Linked DNA regions of Homo sapiens. The protein of the gene in region 3 interacts with the protein of the main gene of each other region in a pairwise test. Each region holds a gene or a part of one and is shown on either strand. Other genes may lie near its edges.

Region 1 (3,657 bases), on a different chromosome or scaffold from region 3:
GCATATTATGAGAGTGATATTACTTGGTGTCTAGTTTACTTTTCTTTGATAGCTTCCTGTGGAAAAGGATCTTCCTGAAGGAAATAAGAATTAAAAGAGTAGATGTATAGACCTTAGTTACCATCCAATACAAATCACTCTAGACCTTTAATTCCACTTAACTACCGAAACTGTCCTTACAGTAAAGTATGAATCTAGACATCACCATGCTACAGTCTTGAGCCTTTCAAGGAAGTCTGCAATTTGAAAATTATTTTCTTTACCTCAGGTCATGGGGTACAATGAAGTGAATTTCTCTAAATGGTTCAAATACATCATAAGGAGATGGCTCTTGGAATACATTTGGCATAAGAATTTCTTAGTAAAAGAAAAGCTTAAATAGAGTTAATATCTAATAACATAACATAATTGGTTTTATATAGTGACAGTAGAGAGCAAAGTTCCTTCTAAAATCTTCCATTTAGAATTCCAAGCCCCTCGACATTCATATTTCTGTCAGTTTTCAATATAGATTTTATGTGTTCACTGTATGCAAACTGTAGCCAAAATACACATTTCTATTCCTGATGCTACTGTGGATGTCAAGGTTTAGTTTAAGCCTTTTTTCGGTAGCAAACTGTGAGAAGTATAATTTCAGCTTTCAAAGAAATATTATTCCTGATCTTCCTTGTTAGTAAAAAAGTAACTTAGTTTGTTATCTATTAATTTTAAGGAAAAGATTAGAAAAAGGAAAAAAATAATAAATGACTTACCTCTAAGTATGTATGACTCCATGTTAAAGCAGCTAAACTAAAAGCTTACCACAACTTAAAGAAAAACTAAAATTCAACATCATTCAGTTTCTTTTTGCATCCCATTTAGGAAATGTTTGTTGCTGAGGCTGACAAAATAAATTCATCATTTAATCATGTCATTTATAATGCAGTCTCATGATACTGTCTCTGAGGATCAAATATTCAGTTAAAGCCATACTAGACTACCAAATAATATATAAAACATTTATGAACATTTTATGCTTGCTTTACAAGGCTGATCTATTAAACTTGTGACATTTTTATTTAAAAAGAATAAACAAGAATATCAATGGTATTATTTTATCCTTATATGGGTTAAGAAATTATTTATGAGTTGTCTTTAGAAATCTACCAATGTTAGATGTGTGCATAATTCTTCTTTTTCATTGTAGCTGGGGGCCAAGGAAGTGGTCAATTAATATTTGTACTGCAAATGCCTTAAGTGGATACCTATTAAAAGGTATACAAAATATAAACAGTACTGCATATTTTCAAAACTTTTAAATAAACACAAAGAATATATAGGTATACATGTTATAATTTCAAAGTCAACACTAGCACATAAGTTTTTCATATCTAAATACATACTAGGATACTTCCTATTTCAACACATGCACCTACAAACACATGGCCATGCACATAACCTTACTTTCTGCCACTTGCAACAAAGAATATACAATATTGTACATTGTTTCAACTTATATTGTATTGGAAAACTAATGAGGATGGCATTAAAAAATTCTGATCTAAGAAATCAAAATGCAGGAAGATAATTATTCCTTAGATTAAAAACACTGAAGACTGATGGAAAGTTAAGATTCAAATTGCTTGTCGGAAGAGAACAGGTCCGCCTGTAAACACTCAGAATGCTCTGTTTGACAAGTGGGACTAGAACTTCTGTAATATAGCAATCCAGGCCAAAGACTTAAACCATCAATGCTTCGGATCGCAGAGAAATGGTATAGTTGTGGGTAGTTCTCCGCAAGGCAGGGGGTGCAGATGGAGATCTGGATGCCCATCTGGAGGGGAGACGACGATTTGCTGGTCTAGCAGGTCGGGAAAATCCTTTTCCATGTGAGGCGTTCACTGACATGGATTCCTAGGACACAAGTAAAAACATTCCTCTCACTCTCTGGGTACCAACAATAGGCTTAATATATGATGGGTCTCAACTATAAGATTAGTCCGTTAGTAAATTTACAAGAAAGAAAAAGCATTGAAAACTAAAGAAGGTAGTTGTCTAATATTTGTGGTTTTGAATGTTTTAAAGCAATTCAATTTTAATATGGAATATGATATTTGATAATTTTGTACCTTTCCTTACACTGACAAATTTTAATACAGTTAATCTCTCTGTAGAACTAATGATGAGCTCAGGATTTAAAATTTCAAGTTAAATAACTTGAATATCATGGAAATACAGATGTTTCTTAGTGCGCTGTTAGTATGTTACAGTGTTATTTAAAAATAAAAAGATAATTTATAGAAGAAACTGTTCATTTATGTCAAATTCATTGACACTTTTAGAGGTGATACGCAAAAGGCACACAAACCAAATGATTAATCTGATGCTTTTTTTTTTCACTATCACTGGCACTATCTATCAAAACCTTAAAATTATCATTAAAATACTTTTAAATACATCTTCATTCTAATTACTAATACAAAATTGCTATCTCTTGGGCATGTTCTGATGAGAGAAAACCTTTTCCTTCACTTTTCTTCTCTTTCTTTTATTTTCTTCCTTCTTTCCTTTTATTTTAATGGAAAAAAAGCATTCCTTGGTCCTTAAAATTAAAACAAAAGTACAAAGCTTCCATGACACACTTTATACACTTGGTTCTTATTGACCCTTCTTAGACCCCACAAAGCCTGTGCTCTTTCATCTGAGCTAGGCAGTGAGGATGGCCTCCTATTTCTACTATTTTAGCCATGGTCTGACAGTAAACTGCAGTTTCTTTTTCTTTTTGGAGACTTATTTTCTAGATTTGTTCCCACAGGAGGAAGAACAAAAAACAAAAACAAAAACTGCTCCTGAGGATCTATAGTAGAGAACCTCCCTGCCAAACTCCCAATGAATGCAAAAAGGGAAATCACTCAGTATTATTTCTTGTTAGTTAACAAGAATTTTGTTTGGTTATTGTACAGATATATCTATTTCCCATCTTTAGCTATAGGACCTTGTGGGCATTGATGGGCTCAATTAAAAAGCAGAGAAATACAAAAGCAGGATACTTTCTGCACCTTATAAAAACAGGCAAGATTTCTCATAAGATGGATGAAAACTGATATTTTTGCAGGGTTTGAAATCCACATAGTAGTTTTTTACACCAGAAGGAAGCAACTTGCATAATAGTTTAAAACCATGCTGCGTACTCACTGCATTCTATGAAACTAGGAGTTCTGAAGTATTGGTTAATAACAACAATATGTCACCTTGTAATTTTTGTTAGCTTCTTAAAAATTATATGAGTAAAAGAGAGTGTTGTATAACTCTTCTTTGTAAATACCAATTTCTTTGACCTCTTTTTCTCTTATAACTAATGAAGATTAAACTCTTTCATAAATAGACAGGAACAAAAAAAGATAACAGTTTACTTAAAATGTCCATTTGAGTGGGGTTTTTTTGGTCAATTTCTATGCTAAGAATACATACAAATAAGAATAACCTTATTTATATATACTATCTTTTAGTTCCACAGATAAAAGGACTCTATTAGGCACTGTTTTAAATGATGTGTATTTCCCATATTCATATTAATGTGATTAATCCTATGAGAAAGAACATGAGTCAAATGCTGAGAATGACTGAACCAATCATAGTTAATAACTGAAAAATGAAAACGATTTTAAAAATATTTTC
Region 2 (2,796 bases), on a different chromosome or scaffold from region 3:
AGAGGCGGAGGCCTGCACTTGACCATGTAGGTGGCAGAGATCGTGGGCTGGCTGTGTCCACGTGGGAGTTCACTTAGCGACTCAGATATCTCAACCAATGGCTGCTTTGTTGTCTGACAAGGGAGAAGGTGGCACTTCCGTTCAGATTCATTTTGCTAATCTCTCCACTCCCTGTTCAGTTGGTTCTTTTTTTGGGGTTTTGTTTTGTTTTGTTTTGTTGTTTTGTTTTTTCCTTTAAAGAGGATTTCTGTCTCTGGGACCCTCGCTGCACCTACCCCTCCCATTGCAAAGCCAACTTGGACTGGGAAGGGCCCTTCAGGTCACCAAACATCCACCTGGAGCGGCGAGCTAGAGGCCTGTTGGCTTGTGAAATGAGCCCTCCTGCCACACGGGGCCTCTCCCAAAGGCTCATCCCTTGGCCGCCCCCTTCCTAAACACAAGGATCCCCAGCTGGACTCCCCACCCCCTGGCTTCCCCACCTCTCCAGGTGTCAAAGGTGAACCGAGTCCAGTATTAGCTGAATGTCATTTCGTACACCACAGCTCAGTCAGCCCATGGCCTTCGTGAACTTTGCTCCAACACACTGATGTGTGGGCTTCCCACAGCAGGACTGACTTCCCCCTTTCTGTTGTTTGCACATGCCCCTCTTACTGTACTGTCAATAGATATTTTTGAGATTTATTTTTAAATAAATATTCAACTTGCTGTGTGTTTCAACGTGGTTAAAAAAATGAATTATGTAGCTATTTATTAAATGCCCTGGGTTCTTTAGTCTTCCAAGGGAGGGCCTCGCGCCCATTCGTGTTGTATCCTCCACTCACTATGGCCCGAGGGGAGAGGAGAGTTTGGGGCAGGGAGGAACAGACATGAAGCCTCCTTTTCTTGAGCTGGTGGAGAGCCACTGTCTTCCCTGCAGTAACTATCTATACACCTACCTCCAGTGTGCACTTAGGGGGTGAGCGCGGGTGTCGAGGTCTGTGTGTCTGCAGACTGCTAACCTATGACAATTCAGGGACCTCACCTGTCGGACCTATAGCTTGCTGAGCAGGAACCTTGCACTTCACACTTCTTGAGTCTCGTTTCAGAAGGAAAATCATTTGGGATTCCTACTGCCCCTCCATCTCAATCCTCTTCTCTTCACCAGTTTCCAGGACTCATCTGCAACATTTGCAATCTTTTTGCACTAAAAGTGGGCAGGAGTCGGCATGTGCCCATCAGAGAGACGGCTCCTCAGATGCTCAGCTAAGCCTAAGCGCTTCCAAGCCTGAAGGCCCCTTCAGCTTCTCATGTGAATTACCAACCCCTGGATTTTCCTTGTGGGGGTACAAGAGCAGGAGTGGGGCAAGAGTTTGAAAATAAAGCCGCTTCCTTGTGAACTAACTATATTTTAGCCATAACTGTTTGTGATGTACACAATGTTAAGGGATTTATATGCAGTGGGCTTTTCTGGGAGAAAGTTATTCAGCTCTTGAGCAAGTTTAAGTCTGGCTGAATCCTGAGGCCACTGTGAATTTGCTGATGTTCTTCCAACTCAGTTGAGTGATTTTAAGGTTTTCCAAATCTTCTATGGCTCTCTTTTTAATATATATATATATATATATATATATATATATATATATATATATATATATCTATCTGGTAGATCACATGTAGATGTACAGTGTGTATATTAAGCTGAATTTCAACCAACTTTATTACTAAGACCAGCCTAGCAGGGCATTCATCTTTGATGTTCTTCCTTTTCACATTTCAGAATCGGCAATGCCTGGCCCACTCCTGAGAGCTCTAGTTTTCTAGTTTTCCATTTCCAGATTGCGCCAGCATTACAGTAACTAACTCTTTCTAACCAACCGTGATGCCACGTAACTTACCCTATGGACAAAAGCAGGAATGACTAACACATCCTAGGAGGGAAAGTCCAGTGTACCTGTCATCACGGACGCACTGTGGTCACAGACTGGAATACGAAATACTACAGCCCTGCTCCCAGGTGTGCATCTTACTGGATGAGGTTGCTGTGATTGAGATAGTTAAATACATGCTAATTTAAAAATGCAGATGTTTTACATTTGATTTCTACCAAGAGTTGAAATGTTGAGAGATGATTAAAAATAATAATAATAAAGTGTCTTCCATTGTTAAATGAAGTGTTTGGGGTTTTATGTCCCCTGGCCCTGCTTTGAAGTTTGGTTACTTGGGAGTTTATTTTTCCTTAAGCTGTATTTAGTTTTTTAATGACAAGACTTAAATTTTCTCTTCCATGAAACTGACAAATAGCATTTGAGTGCTATACTGCGAGCCTGGCACTTTTTATTTTTTTAATTTTTTGTAAAAAAAATTTTTTTTTTTTTCGAGACGGAGTCTTGCTCTGTCGCCCAGGCTGGAGCACAGTGGCGCTATGTCAGCTCACTGCAAGTTCCGCCTCTTGGGTTCACGCCATTCTCCTGCCTCAGCCTCCCAAGTAGCTGGGACTACCACACCTGGCTAATTTTTCGTTATTTTTAGTAGAGACGGGATTTCACTGTATTAGCCAGGATGGTCTCGATCTCCTGTCCTCGTGATCTGCCTGCCTCGGCCTCCCAAAGTGCTGGGATTATAGGTGTGATCCACTACGCCCGGCCATGTTTTTTTTTTTTAGTTTAAGACGGGCTCTGTTACTTCCCAGTCTGGAGTACGGTTGTGTGATCATGGCTAGCTGTAGCCTGGACCTCTTGGACTTGAGTGATCCTCCCACCTCAGCCTCCCAAGTAGCTACAGGTGGGCACCACTATGTCTGGCTAATTTTAATTTTTTGTA
Region 3 (3,657 bases):
TTCTGTCCAGCGCCGGGATTTGGCCCAGTCCTGGTGGGGTTCTGTCCAGCGCCGGGATTTGGACCAGTCCTGGTGGGGTTCTGTCCAGTGCCGGGATTTGGACCAGTTCTGGTGGGGTTCTGTCCAGTGCCGGGATTTGGACCAGTTCTGGTGGGGTTCTGTCCAGTGCCGGGATTTAGACCAGTCCTGGTGGGGTTCTGTCCAGTGCCGGGATTTGGCCCAGTCCTGGTGGGGTTCTGTCCAGTGCCGGGATTTAGACCAGTCCTGGTGGGGTTCTGTCCAGTGCCGGGATTTGACCCAGTCCTGGTGGGGTGCTGTCCAGTGCCGGGATTTAGACCAGTCCTGGTGGGGTTCTGTCCAGTGCCGGGATTTGGCCCAGTCCTGGTGGGGTTCTGTCCAGTGCCGGGATTTAGACCAGTCCTGGTGGGGTTCTGTCCAGTGCTGGATTTGACCCAGTCCTGGTGGGGTGCTGTCCAGTTCCGGGATTTAGACCAGTCCTGGTGGGGTTCTGTTCAGTGCCGGGATTTGGCCCAGTCCTGGTGGGGTTCTGTCCAGTGCCAGGATTTAGTCCCGTCCTGGTGGGGTTCTGTCCAGTGCTGGATTTGACCCAGTCCTGGTGGGGTGCTGTCCAGTGCCGGGATTTAGACCAGTCCTGGTGGGGTTCTGTTCAGTGCCGGGGTTTGGCCCAGTCCTGGTGGGGTTCTGTCCAGTGCTGGGATTTGGCCCAGTCCTGGTGGGGTTCTGTCCAGTGCCGGGATGCTGTCATGTTATCACGTAACCTGGCTGTTGCTCACCGATTGTCCTTGGTGAGTCACTCTTTAGCATCACTGCAGTGGAAGCAACAGGACCCGGCTGCCCCACGTTTGCAGCACGCTGCTTCTCTCAGAGACCGTGCAGGAATTTTCCTTCTCCTGGTCTGCGTGGGCCGGAGCATATGGCTGGCTTGAGTGATGCTGATGAGTTTGCTTTTCCTTACAGACCACACCACCCCAGAGCCAAGTGCACCGAGGCCTTGGCCAAGCAGAGCCTGGTCATGGATGCGGATGACGAGGCAGTCCTGAACCTCATTGCAGAGTGCGAGTGGGACCTCGGCAGGCCTCCCGGGAGCACGAGCTTCAGCCAGAAGGGGCGTGAGGCCGACTCTCGTGGTTCCCAAGGTGCGCTGCTCATCTGCCAGGAGGCCAGTGGGTCCGCTGGCTCTGGGATATATATAGTCGTTACTGGGCTTGGAGTCCACAGTTGCTCTTTTTGTGGAACTTACCTTGAAGGATAGGATCTTCATGATGTGTCTTTGTGTGCTTTCGAATGCCAGCCATTTGGACTACAGAGTTATAAATGAGAAAGTTAACATATTTGAGTATAGTCATACTGCATGATGGTTTAAATTGTATCCTTCTGAGATCACAGGAAAAGGCAAACTGTCTAAAACAGACAAGAAGCCTAGTGTCCTGTGGCAAGTGGGGCTGACATCTGCGGCAGCTGCAGGGGGGCATAGTCACCGAACTTGCAGGAAACCCTGAGCTCAGGCCGCCACGTGCAGACCTGTAGATCCCAGCAAGGGTGTCTCGGAGACTCCGTTGCCCGGTGGCACTGCCCTCCACTGGGATGTGCTGATGGGCTTTAGCTTCATTTATTCCACCTCCGCTGTGAGTTTCTGAGAACTTTTCGTGGAAACAACAGGTGGAGACCTGAGTTTGGGCTGAAATCTTAGGTTCATCTGTGCAAAGATGTCTGCCCTGTGGCAGCGGTGCTCGAGCCATGTCCTTGCCGGCACTGGGAGCTGAGTCCTTTAATCCTAGCTGCTCTGTCAGGGGGTTGTGGTCTGTGTTTATGGCTTTAATTTGCATCCGCTGCTGTTGAGATACTGGCCGTGCCTGTCTCTTCTTTTCTCTCCAGGTCTGCCCACCTTTGTTCTGGGGTTGCTTCTCTTAGTATTGAGTCCTAAGAGATCTTGGTGGTTTTGACACAGGCCCTTTCTCAGGCACAAGGGCTGCCCATTTCCTCCCTTCTGTGGCTGGCCTTTTCATTATCTGAACAGTGCTTTGAAGAGCACAAGTTTTAATTTCATTACAGTCCAGTTTATGAAGGGCACAGTTTATTTTGTTTTTTGTTTTGTTTATTTTGAGATGGAGTTTTGCTCTGCCGCCCAGGCTGGAGTGCAGTGGCGCAATCTTGGCTTGCTGCAGCCTTTGCCTCCCGGGTTCAAGTGATTCTCCTGCCTCAGCCTCCCAAGTAGCTGGGACTACAGGCGCCCACCACCACACCCAGCTAATTTTGTATTGAGACTGTCTGGACTCTCTCTTCTGTTTTGTGCATCATTTTGTCTGACTTTGCTCCACTTCATGCGGCTGGATTCTTGCAGCCTTGTCCTGAGTCTCGCAGGCGAGTGGCGCCAGTTCCCAGTTCCAAGCTCTCTTGCTGTTAGAAGTCACTGTGGATTCATTTCAGTGTCACCCAGCACGTGATTAACCCCTCGGTCTAACAGATACCATACACTATTCAGAAGCTTAAAATGTAATTTTTGATGGAATAAAACTTTTACAATGTTTTATGAAATATTTTATTTACAATATTTTAATAGAATCCAGACATCTGTTGAGCCCGCAGTTGGTACAGTACCAGTGTGGGGACTCTGGGAAGCAGGGCCGTGAGACGAGGAGGAGCAGCTGCAGAGGGTGCTGTCTGGAGAAGATGCCTTGGAGCCAGCTCTGTGGAGAGCTTCCGCCACTGTACGGAGCGGAGCCAGAGGCCTCCCGTGCCCCCAGGCCACACACGTACTTCACCCCACACCCAGGTACTTACGCGTGTCTTAGTCTGTTTTCTGTTGCTGTAACAGAAAACCACAGACTGAGTAATTTATAAAGAACAGAAGCTTATGTGGCTCATGGTTCTGGAGGCTGGGAAGTCCAAGAGCACGGTGCCGGCACCTGGTGCTGGTCCTCCCATGGCACAGGCAGAAGCATGGTGCAGGCAGAAGCAAGCTCAAGACAGAGAAATGGAGCTAGACTCATCCTTTATCGGGAACCCAGCCCTGCGCTACAGCATTCCTGCCTCCCTGCGGGCTGGCCCTGTGACCTGTTCCAGACTCATCCTTTATCAGGAACCCAGCCCTGCGATACAGCATTCCCGCCTCCCTGAGGGTTGGCCCTGTGACCTGTTCCAGACTCATCCTTTATCAGGAACCCAGCCCTGTGCTACAGCATTCCTGCCTCCCTGAGGGCTGGCCCTGTGACCTGTTCACCTCTTAAAGGCCCTCCGCTTAATACTGTTAGAGTGGCAATAAGTTTCCAGCTTAGGAACTTTGGGGGGTTCCTTCGAACTACAGCAACATGAAATCCCTGTCAACTTTTACTCCCTTCAGTTCCTTTTTAAGTAGTTAAATATTTTTCACATCGTTTGCTTTTACTATGAAATTTCTCCTGTTCTCTGTGTATTTATTTGTTTGTGGAACTCTCCAAAATGTCTTTGGAAAGAATGCAGCACATTGAAATTTATAATCCATTCATGGTTTAGATTCATGGTTGGTAAATAAGTGCTTTTTCTCTGCACGTGTGTGTGTGCACACCCTCCCTCACCCTCTCACTAATGCACACACACTTTTAAGTGTATGGGCCCAGGTTATGGCAATAGCTACATTTTGAAAATCAAAGGCGAGAA

The links.
Region 1: the proteins of CEP72 (region 3) and KIAA0408 interact in a two-hybrid assay, tested with the Homo sapiens proteins (one large-scale study listed by BioGRID and IntAct).
Region 2: the proteins of CEP72 (region 3) and SPATA2 interact in a two-hybrid assay, tested with the Homo sapiens proteins (one large-scale study listed by BioGRID and IntAct).

The regions. Positions count from the first base shown.
Region 1 is NC_000006.12:127,442,390-127,446,046, forward strand, and holds part of KIAA0408 (uncharacterized protein KIAA0408), read right to left. Parts: intron 1,894-3,657; coding exon 1,720-1,893; 3' UTR 1-1,719.
Region 2 is NC_000020.11:49,902,738-49,905,533, reverse strand, and holds the end of SPATA2 (spermatogenesis-associated protein 2), read left to right. Parts: 3' UTR 1-2,143; downstream 2,144-2,796.
Region 3 is NC_000005.10:632,791-636,447, forward strand, and holds part of CEP72 (centrosomal protein of 72 kDa), read left to right. Parts: intron 1-978; coding exon 979-1,157; intron 1,158-2,581; coding exon 2,582-2,794; intron 2,795-3,657. UniProt on the Homo sapiens protein: Involved in the recruitment of key centrosomal proteins to the centrosome.